Linked DNA regions of Homo sapiens: region 1 is linked to region 2. A link means that fine-mapping ties the variant in region 2 to the expression of a gene that starts in the linked region. Tissue or cell type: whole blood. Region 2 holds a variant in brackets; the other region holds the start of a gene. All regions are shown on one strand. Distances are from middle to middle.

What was found. PIP is the estimated chance that this variant, and not a neighbour inherited with it, causes the effect.
Region 1: FCER2 starts here. The variant in region 2 is fine-mapped to the expression of FCER2 in whole blood (TOPMed, PIP above 0.99).

The regions. Positions count from the first base shown.
Region 1 is chr19:7,700,068-7,704,305 of GRCh38, reverse strand. It overlaps FCER2 (Fc epsilon receptor II), which reads left to right and starts at 2,175. Exons shown (of 11, transcript NM_001220500.2): 1 at 2,175-2,291. It overlaps LOC105372262 (a long non-coding RNA gene), which reads left to right. Exons shown (of 5, transcript XR_936296.2): 5 at 1,185-1,226. RefSeq lists an enhancer at 2,179-2,288.
Region 2 is chr19:7,721,431-7,725,668 of GRCh38, reverse strand. No RefSeq gene overlaps it. Among named protein-coding and RNA genes, the nearest start is that of CLEC4G, 8.6 kb to the left of the region's middle. RefSeq lists an enhancer at 4,141-4,238. The variant A/G (reference allele first, on the strand shown) is at 2,575.

The DNA.
Region 1 (4,238 bases), 21 kb after region 2:
ACCAAGATGGTAAAGAAGTGAGGGAGGGTCCGGGTGCGGTGGCTCATGCCTGTAATCCCAACACTTCGGGAAGCCGACGTGGGTGGATCACTTGAGACCAGGAGTTCAAGACCAGCCTGGTCAACTTGGTGAAACCCCATCTCTACTACAAATACAAAAAATTAGCCAGGTGTAGTGGCGCGTGCCTGTAATCCCAGGTACTTGGGAGGCTGAGGCAGGAGAATCACTTGAATCCGGGGAGGCAGAGGTTATGGGGAGCTGAGATCATGCCACTGTACTCCAGCCTGGATGACACAGCAAGACTCTGTCTCAAAAAAAGAAAAAAAATCAAAAAGGAAGGGAAAGAGTTGGCCGCTGAGCATTGGAGAGGTGGCTGGGGGCTGCTGAGTGGACATAGGGACAGCATTTGAGGCCAAGCCAGGGTGGGGTCACTGGGGGATTAGTCTTGAGGGCAGGTCGGGTTGGGGATCCTAAGGGGGGGTCTGCCGTGGTGGCCAGGTGGGAGTGAGGACCCTGGAGGGTCTGTTTTGGGGGGCAAGACAGGAGGTAGAGCCCCAGGGAAGGCTGTCATGGGGGCAGGATGAGAGTGGGGAGGCCATGGAGGAGGCAGTCCCAGGGACAAGGCAAACCAGGCAGGGGGAACCCTAAGAGGGGGATGTCACCTGGTCCAGGGGGAAGAGGGAGCAGCTGTGGGGATGGGGAGAAGCAGGTTATTTTTTTGAGACGAGCCAGGCGCGGGTGCTGGGTGAGCGGTGGGGTGGAAGATCGGGAAGTGCTTGGACAAGGCCTGGACCTGGGCCGGGGTGTCTGGGTGGATGGACGGACTGTCCCACCAATGGGGACACACGAGGAGAAGGAGGAGGAAGCTTGGGAATAAGTCCAGCTGGGCCATGTTGTGAGGACATGGGGATGAAGTCTTAGTTCCAGGATGGGGCTGGGATGGAGTTTGGTGTTTCTTTTCTGTTTTTCTTTCTTTTTTCTTTTCTTTTTTTTTTTTGTGAGACAGAGTTTAGCTTTTGTTGCCCAGGCTGGAATGCAATGGCGCGATCTCGGCTCACCGCAACCTCTGCCTCCCGGATTCAAGCGATTCTCCTGCCTCAGCCTCCCGAGTAGCTAGGATTACAGGTGCCCACCACCATGCCCAGCTAATTTTTTTTTTTTTTTTTTTTTTTTTGTATTTTCAGTAGATACAGGGTTTCACCATGTTGGCCTTGAACTCCTGACCTCAGATGATCCACCTGCCTCGGCCTCCCAAAGTGCTGGGATTACAGGCGTGAGCCACTGTGCCCGGTCTCTCTCTCTCTCTTTCTCTCTCTCTTTCTTTCTTTCATCTCACTGTGTTGCCCAGGCTGATCTTGAACTCCTGGGCTCAAGTGATCCACTCACCTCTGCCTCCCCAGTAGCTGGGATCACAGGCATGCACCACCATGCCCTGCTAGTTTTTATAGTTTTTGTAGAGACAACGGCTTGCTATGTTGTCCAGGCTGGTCTTGAACTCCCAGGCTTAAGTGATCCTCCCACCTCAGCCTCCCAAAGTGCTGGGATTACAGGCGTGAGCCACCGTGCCCAGCCAAAACTGTCCATATTTGACCTGAATATTATCTCACGTATCTTTCTTTCCCCCCGCTTCCCTCCTTCCCTCCTACTCCTCCTTCTCCCTCTCCTTCCTTCTGTCTTTTTTTTCCCCTTCCTCTGCCTCTCTCTCCTCTTCCCTTTTTTCTTGCTGGGACTCAAACCTGGGACATTTGACCTGGGAGCCTATTTGCTCAATCATCAAGAGACATAATCTCATGGTGGGGTGTCTGCTGGTAAGTGCCGGGTGGCAGGATCCCAACTCCAGGCCGTCCTTCTAACCCAAGAGGCCCTGCCTCTGCCTAGAGCCTTCCGTGGCTCCCCAGGGCCCTCTGTGATCGGCCATAGTGGTATGATTCAGTGTGCAGTAACAGTGGTTCACATCTTGACGCTACCACTCACCTCCTTCAGCCCTGTGGGAACTTGCTGCTTAACATCTCTAGTTCTCACCCAATTCTCTTACCTGAGAAATGGAGATAATAATAACACGGACTTCACCCGGGTGTGGGGAGCACCAGGAGAGGCCATGCGTGTAATGTTATCCGGGTGGCAAGCCCATATTTAGGTCTATGAAAATAGAAGCTGTCAGTGGCTCTACTTTCAGAAGAAAGTGTCTCTCTTCCTGCTTAAACCTCTGTCTCTGACGGTCCCTGCCAATCGCTCTGGTCGACCCCAACACACTAGGAGGACAGACACAGGCTCCAAACTCCACTAAGTGAGTACGTATCTGGTGTGTTGGGGGTTGGCCATGGGAAGTGGAGATCAAAGCGCCCTTGGAAGAAACGACCTTGGGCTGAGCCTCAAGGGATGACCAGCAGGAGGTCACAACCAGAGAAGGGAGGTGGTGGGTGGTGAGGGGGCGGGGGTGGGGGCCGCAGTGTGGACAGAATCTCGAGGCATTCGAGTCCCTGATTTGGGGAAGTGAAAGCAGGCCATCTGGTCTGAGATGAGCTTGGTGAGTGCGCTGGGCCGATCATAGAGGGCCCTGGGGAGCCATGGAAGACTCTAGGCAGAGGCAGGACCTCTTGGGTTAGAAGGACGGCCTGGAGTTGGGATCCTGCCACCCAGCACTTACCAGTAGACACCCCACCATGAGATTATGTCTCCAGATGATTGAGCAAATGGGCTCCCAGCTCAAGGGTCCCGGGTTTGAGTTCCAGTCCCACCACTGCGTGATGGGGACAAATGACTTACCCTCTTGGAACCTCAGTTCCACTGAGAGAGGCCCCACAGAATGAGGACAGTCCCCCAGCATCCTGCCAGTAGGTTTACTGAGCACCTACTGTGTGCTGGTGCTTTGAATACTCCCAATTTACAGATGAGCAAACTGAGCTGCTCATCCAGGAAGAAGCCAGGACTCGGACTCAGGTCTGTCCAGCTGCCTCCCTGGACAGTTCCAGTCCCAGGATGGTCTCTGGGTTCCTCTCACAATGTCAAAAGGGCCAGCTTGAGCTGCCGCTAATCAGAGCCTGGCCGCGCCACACCCCACCTCCCTGAGGCTCCGAGAGAAGGGACTTACCTATAGTCAAGCAGCGAAAGAAGGTAGCCCGTGACCTCCAGGCCTGAAGGACCCCAAGTCCCATGCTCCTCAGCACATAGTAGATGCTTTAAAGTCAGAGGACTTGGTCGGGCGCAGTGGCTCACGCCTGTAATCCTAGCACTTTGGGAGGCTGAGGAGGGCAGATCACCTGTGGTCAGGAGTTCGAGACCAGCCTGATCAATATGGTGAAACCCTGTCTCTACTAAAATACAAAAATTAGCCAGGTGTGGTGGTGGGTGCCTGTAGTCCCAGCTACTTGGGAGGCTAAGACAGGAGAATCGCTTGAACCCGGGAGGTGGAGGTTGCAGTGAGCCAAGATGGTGCCATTGCACTCTAGCCTGGGTGACAGAGCGAGACTCCATCTCAAAAAATAAAAAAATAGGCCATGCACAGTGGCTCACGCCTGTAATCCCAGCACTTTGGGAGGCCGAGGCGGGCGGATCATGAGGTCAGGAGTTTGAGACTAGCCTGGCCAACATAGTGAAAACCCGTCTCTACTAAAAATACAAAAATTATCTGGTCATGGTGGCACGTGCCTATAGTCCCAGCTACTCGGGAGGCTGAGGCGGGAGAATCGCTTGAACCCAGGAGGTGGAGGTGGCAGTGAGCCGAGATCGTGCCCCTGCACTCCAGCCTGGGCAACAGAGCGAGACTCCATTTCAATAAATAAATAAATAAATAAATAAAGTCAGAGCACTTTACAGATGCCCTGGGGACATTGGCAGAGGAGAAGGCTGAGGCCTGGGTTATGGGCTCTTAGCATTTCTCAGTGGGACGTGGCACAGAGTAGATGTTTCATAAATGTTTAGAATCCGAAGACCCACTGTGCGCAGCCCGGCACCAAAAACCTCAGGTATGCTGTGATCTCATTGGATCCTATCTTGGCCTCATGAGTTGGGTGCTGTCATCAGCCCATTTTACAGAGGGGAAAACTGAGGCTGAGAATGGTTGAATCCTTGGCTGAGGTCACACAGGCAAGGCAATTATAATAAACGCTGGTGATATTTTTAGCACAGATCACCAACCAACAGTATAGGTGTTCTTGGTATCATCATTTTACGAATGAGGAAAGAAGTTTCCAGGTTAATTAAGCCATTTGTCAAGATCTCATGGGTGCACCTGCTGT
Region 2 (4,238 bases):
CCCGCCACCACCATGCCTGGCTAATTTTTATATTTTTAGTAGAGATGGGGTTTCACCATGTTAGCCAGGATAGTCTCACTCTTTTGATCTGGTGATCCACCCGCCTTGGCCTCCCAAAGTGCTGGGATTACAGGCATGAGCCACTGTGCCTGGCCCTGATTTCAGTTTTCTTAACAAAATACAAATCAGGACCTGCCAAATGAGAAGATACATAGGGTGAGGTCTGGGAAGGTCCCAAACACGGAGCTCCTGTGTCCTTCCCCATAACGTCAGCACACATCACTCTCTCTATGCCTTCCCCACTCTCAGGGTGATGGGTTCACCAGCCAGGAAGCTCCAGAGCTCGGTGTCCTGAGTTTTTTTGGGGTTTCAGTATGTAGGCAGGATTGATCCAATTACTCCTTCAGTGTTTCAGTTTTGTTTGTTTTTTTTTTTTGAGACCCGGTCTTGCCCTGTTGCCCAGGCTGGAGTGCAGTGGCATAATCATAGCTCACTGCAGCCTCAACCTTCTGGGCTCAAGTGATCCTCCCACCTCTCAGCCTCTCGAGTAGCTGGAACTACAGGCACATGTCACCACCCTGTCCAGCTAATGTTTGTATTTTTTGTAGAGACGGGGTTTCACCATATTGTTCAGGTTGGTCTTGAGCTCCTGAGCTCAAGTGATCCTCCTGCCTTGGCCTCCCAAAGTGCTGGGATTACAGGCATGAGCCACCTCACAAGGCCTCGGGAGTTTTTAGTGGGGTCTCATTACACAGGAAAGATTGACTGAATCGTTGGCCTTGTGATTGAACTTTATCTCCAGTCCCCCTTTTGGTCAAGTGGCTGCAAATTCCAACCCTCATGGTTGATGTATCTGGCATGACCAGCACCCATCCTAAGCCACCCCCTCATATAAACCCAAGTGTGGTCCAGGGCCCTGATGAATAACAAAGACTCACAGCACTTGGAAAATTCCAAGGACTTAGACACTTCCTAGCAGGAACCAGGGACAAATTCTTTACCACACGAGCTCCTCCCATCTTGAAATCCATCATCACGTCTGCAAAGTGTCTTTTGCCATATAAAGTGATGTTCACAGGATCCAGGGATGAGGACATGGTATATTGCAGGTCATCACAAATCTGTGTTAGCCAGGGTTGTCCAGGACTGAACTGATAGGATATGCGTGTGTGTGTGTGTGTGTGTGTGTGTGTGTGAGATATAGTTAGGATATTTGTCCCCACCCAAATCTCATGTTGAAATGTATCCCCAGTGCTGGAGGTGGGGGCTGGTGGGAAGTGTTTTGCATCATAGGGGCAGATTCTTCGTGAATGGCTTGGACCATCCCCATGGTGATAAGTGAGCTCTCACTCAAAGTTCACATAAAATCTGGTTGTTCAAAAGTGTGTGATACCTCCCCTGCCACGCTGTCTCTTGCTCCTGCTTTCGCCATGTGAGACACCTGCTTCGCCTTTGTCTTCTGCCATGATTGGAAGCTTCCTGAGGCCCCTCCAGAAGCAGATATCTCTGCTATGCTTCCTGGACAGCCTGTAGAATCATGAGCCAATTAAACCTCTTTTCTTCTAAATTACCCAGTCTCAGGTATCTCTTTATAGCAATGCAAGAATGGCCTAACACAGCTGGGTGTGGTGGCTCACGCCTGTAATCCCAGCACTTTGGGAGGCCGTGGCGGGCAGATCACTTGAGGTCAGGAGTTCGAGACCAGCCTGGCCAATATGTTGAAACCCCATTTCTACTAAAAATACAAAAATTAGCCAGGTGTGGTGGCGGGTGCCTGTAATCCCAGCTACTTGGGAGGCTGAGGCAGGAGAATCACTTGAACCTGGGAGGTGGAGGTTGCACTGAGCTGAGATCACACCATTGCACTCCAGCTTGGGTGACAGAATGAGACACCATCTTGAGGAAAAAAAAAAAAAAAGAACAGCCTAACACAATATTAAAGGGAGTTTATTTGGGAGAATTAGCTCACACAATTATAAGGCGAAGTCCCATAGTAGGCTGTCTGCAAGCCCGGGAAAGACAGAAAGTGGTAGTGTGGCTCAGTCCAAGTCCAAAAGCCTCAAAAATCATGGAAGGAGACAGTGCAACCTTCAGTCTGCAGCCAAAGGCCCGAGAACACCTGGGAGGCCACTGGTGCAAGTGCCAGAGTTCAAAGGCCAAAGAACCTAGAGCCTGATGTCCAAGGGTAGGAGGAGAGGAAACCAAGTGATTGGCACAGCAGGGGAAGAGAGAGGGAGCTGACTCAGCGAGCAAGCCAGCTTCTCCCGCCTTCTTCCACCTGCTTTGTTCTAGCCACGCTGGCGGCCGATGGGATGGTGCCCACTCACATTGAGGATGGGTCTTCCTCTCCCAGCCCACGGACTCAAATATCAACCTCCTCTGATAACATCCTCACAGACACACCCAGAAACAATGCTTCACCAGCCATCCAGGCATCTCCCTCCATCCGGTCAAGTTGACACCAGGTGTTAACCATCATAGCATCACAGCACAGGGCAGAGCCATCTGAGATAGACTCCCAGGTGGGACAGCAGTGAGATACTTACCTAGAGGTCTAACTACTTGATGAGCCAG[A/G]TTAAGTGATTGTCTGGATGATACAGACAGATTGTAATCAAACATACTGACAATGAGGTGGCGACTCCGGATCGAATGAAGAACAACAGAGACAGAACGACAGACGGACTTCATGGCTGGGTGTGGTGGCTCACACCTGTAATCCCGGCACTTTGGGAGGCTGTGGTGGGTGGATCACCTGAGGTCAGGAGTTTGAGACTAGCCTGGCTAACATGGCAAAACCCCATCTCTATTAAAAATACAAAAAAATTAGCCAGGCATGGTTGTGGGTGCCTGTAATCCCAGCTACTCAGGAGGCTGAGGCAGGAGAATCACTTGATCCCGGAAGGTGGAGGTTGCAGTGAGCTGAGATCACGCCACTGCACTCCAGTCTGGGTAACAGAGTGAAACTCCATCTAAAAAAAAATTTTTTTTTAAAAGAACAACAGATGGACTTCAAGTCTGACCGACAGCCTCAATGGGGAGCCCCTGCCAGGCTGTCGTGACAAATGTACAGCAACAGCACGGGCAGGCACAAGAGGTTTCAGCATCTCCCCTGAGGATGGAGCTGAGAAAGTGCCAGCTGTGGCTGAGGCAGAAGGAAGAGAGGCTGAGTGCAGTGGTGTGCACCTGTCATCCTGAAACCCACCCAACAGTCTCATAGAACAGGGGTCCTCATCCCCCAGGCCGCAGACCGGTACTGATCTGTGCCCTGTTAGGAGCCAGGCCACACAGCAGGAGGTTAGCAGCAGGTGAGCAAGCAAAGCTCATCTGTGTTTACAGCCACTCTCCTTTGCTTGCATGACCACCTGACCTCTGCCTCCTGTCAGATTAGCAGTGGTATTAGACTCTCACAGGAGCATGAAGCCTATTGTGAACTGCACATCGAGGGATCTGGGTCATAGGATAATCGAATGACTGATGATCTCTCACTGTCTCCCATCACCCCCAGATGGGACTGTCTTAGTTGCGGGAAAACAAGCTCAGAGTTCCCACTGATTCTGCATTATGCAGAGTGGCATAATTATTTCATTACATATTAAAATGTAATAATTATAGAAATAAAGTGCACAATAAATGTCACGCAGTTGAATCATCCTGAAACCATCCCCCACCCCAGTCTGTGGAAAAGTTGTCTGCTGGGTGCAGTGGCTCATGCCTGTAATCTCAGCACTTTGGGAGGCTGAGGTGGGCAGATCACCGGAGGTCAGGAGTTTGAGACCAGCCCAGCCAACATGGTGAAACGCCGTCTCTACTAAAAATACAAGAATTAGCTGGGCATGGTGGTGTGCACCTGTAATCCCAGCTATTCGGGAGGCTCAGGTGGGAGAATGGCTTGAATCTGGGAGGCGGCAGTTGCATTGAGCCGAGATCACGACACTGCACTCCAGCCTGGGCAACAGAGCAAGACTCTGTCTCTAAAAAAAAAAGAAAAAGAAAAATTGTCTTCTCCAAAACCGGTCCCTGGTGCCAAAAAGGTTAGGGATTGTTGCCATAGACAGTTCTTTTCAATAAACATAGAAATTGACCCTGTGGTCTTTTTTTTTTTTTTGAGACGGAGTCTCGCTCTGTTGCCCAGGCTGGAATGCAGTGGCGCAATCTCGGCTCACTGCAAGCTCCACCTCCTGGGTTCACGCCATTCTCCTGCCTCAGCCTCCCGAGTAGCTGGGACTATAGGCATGCGC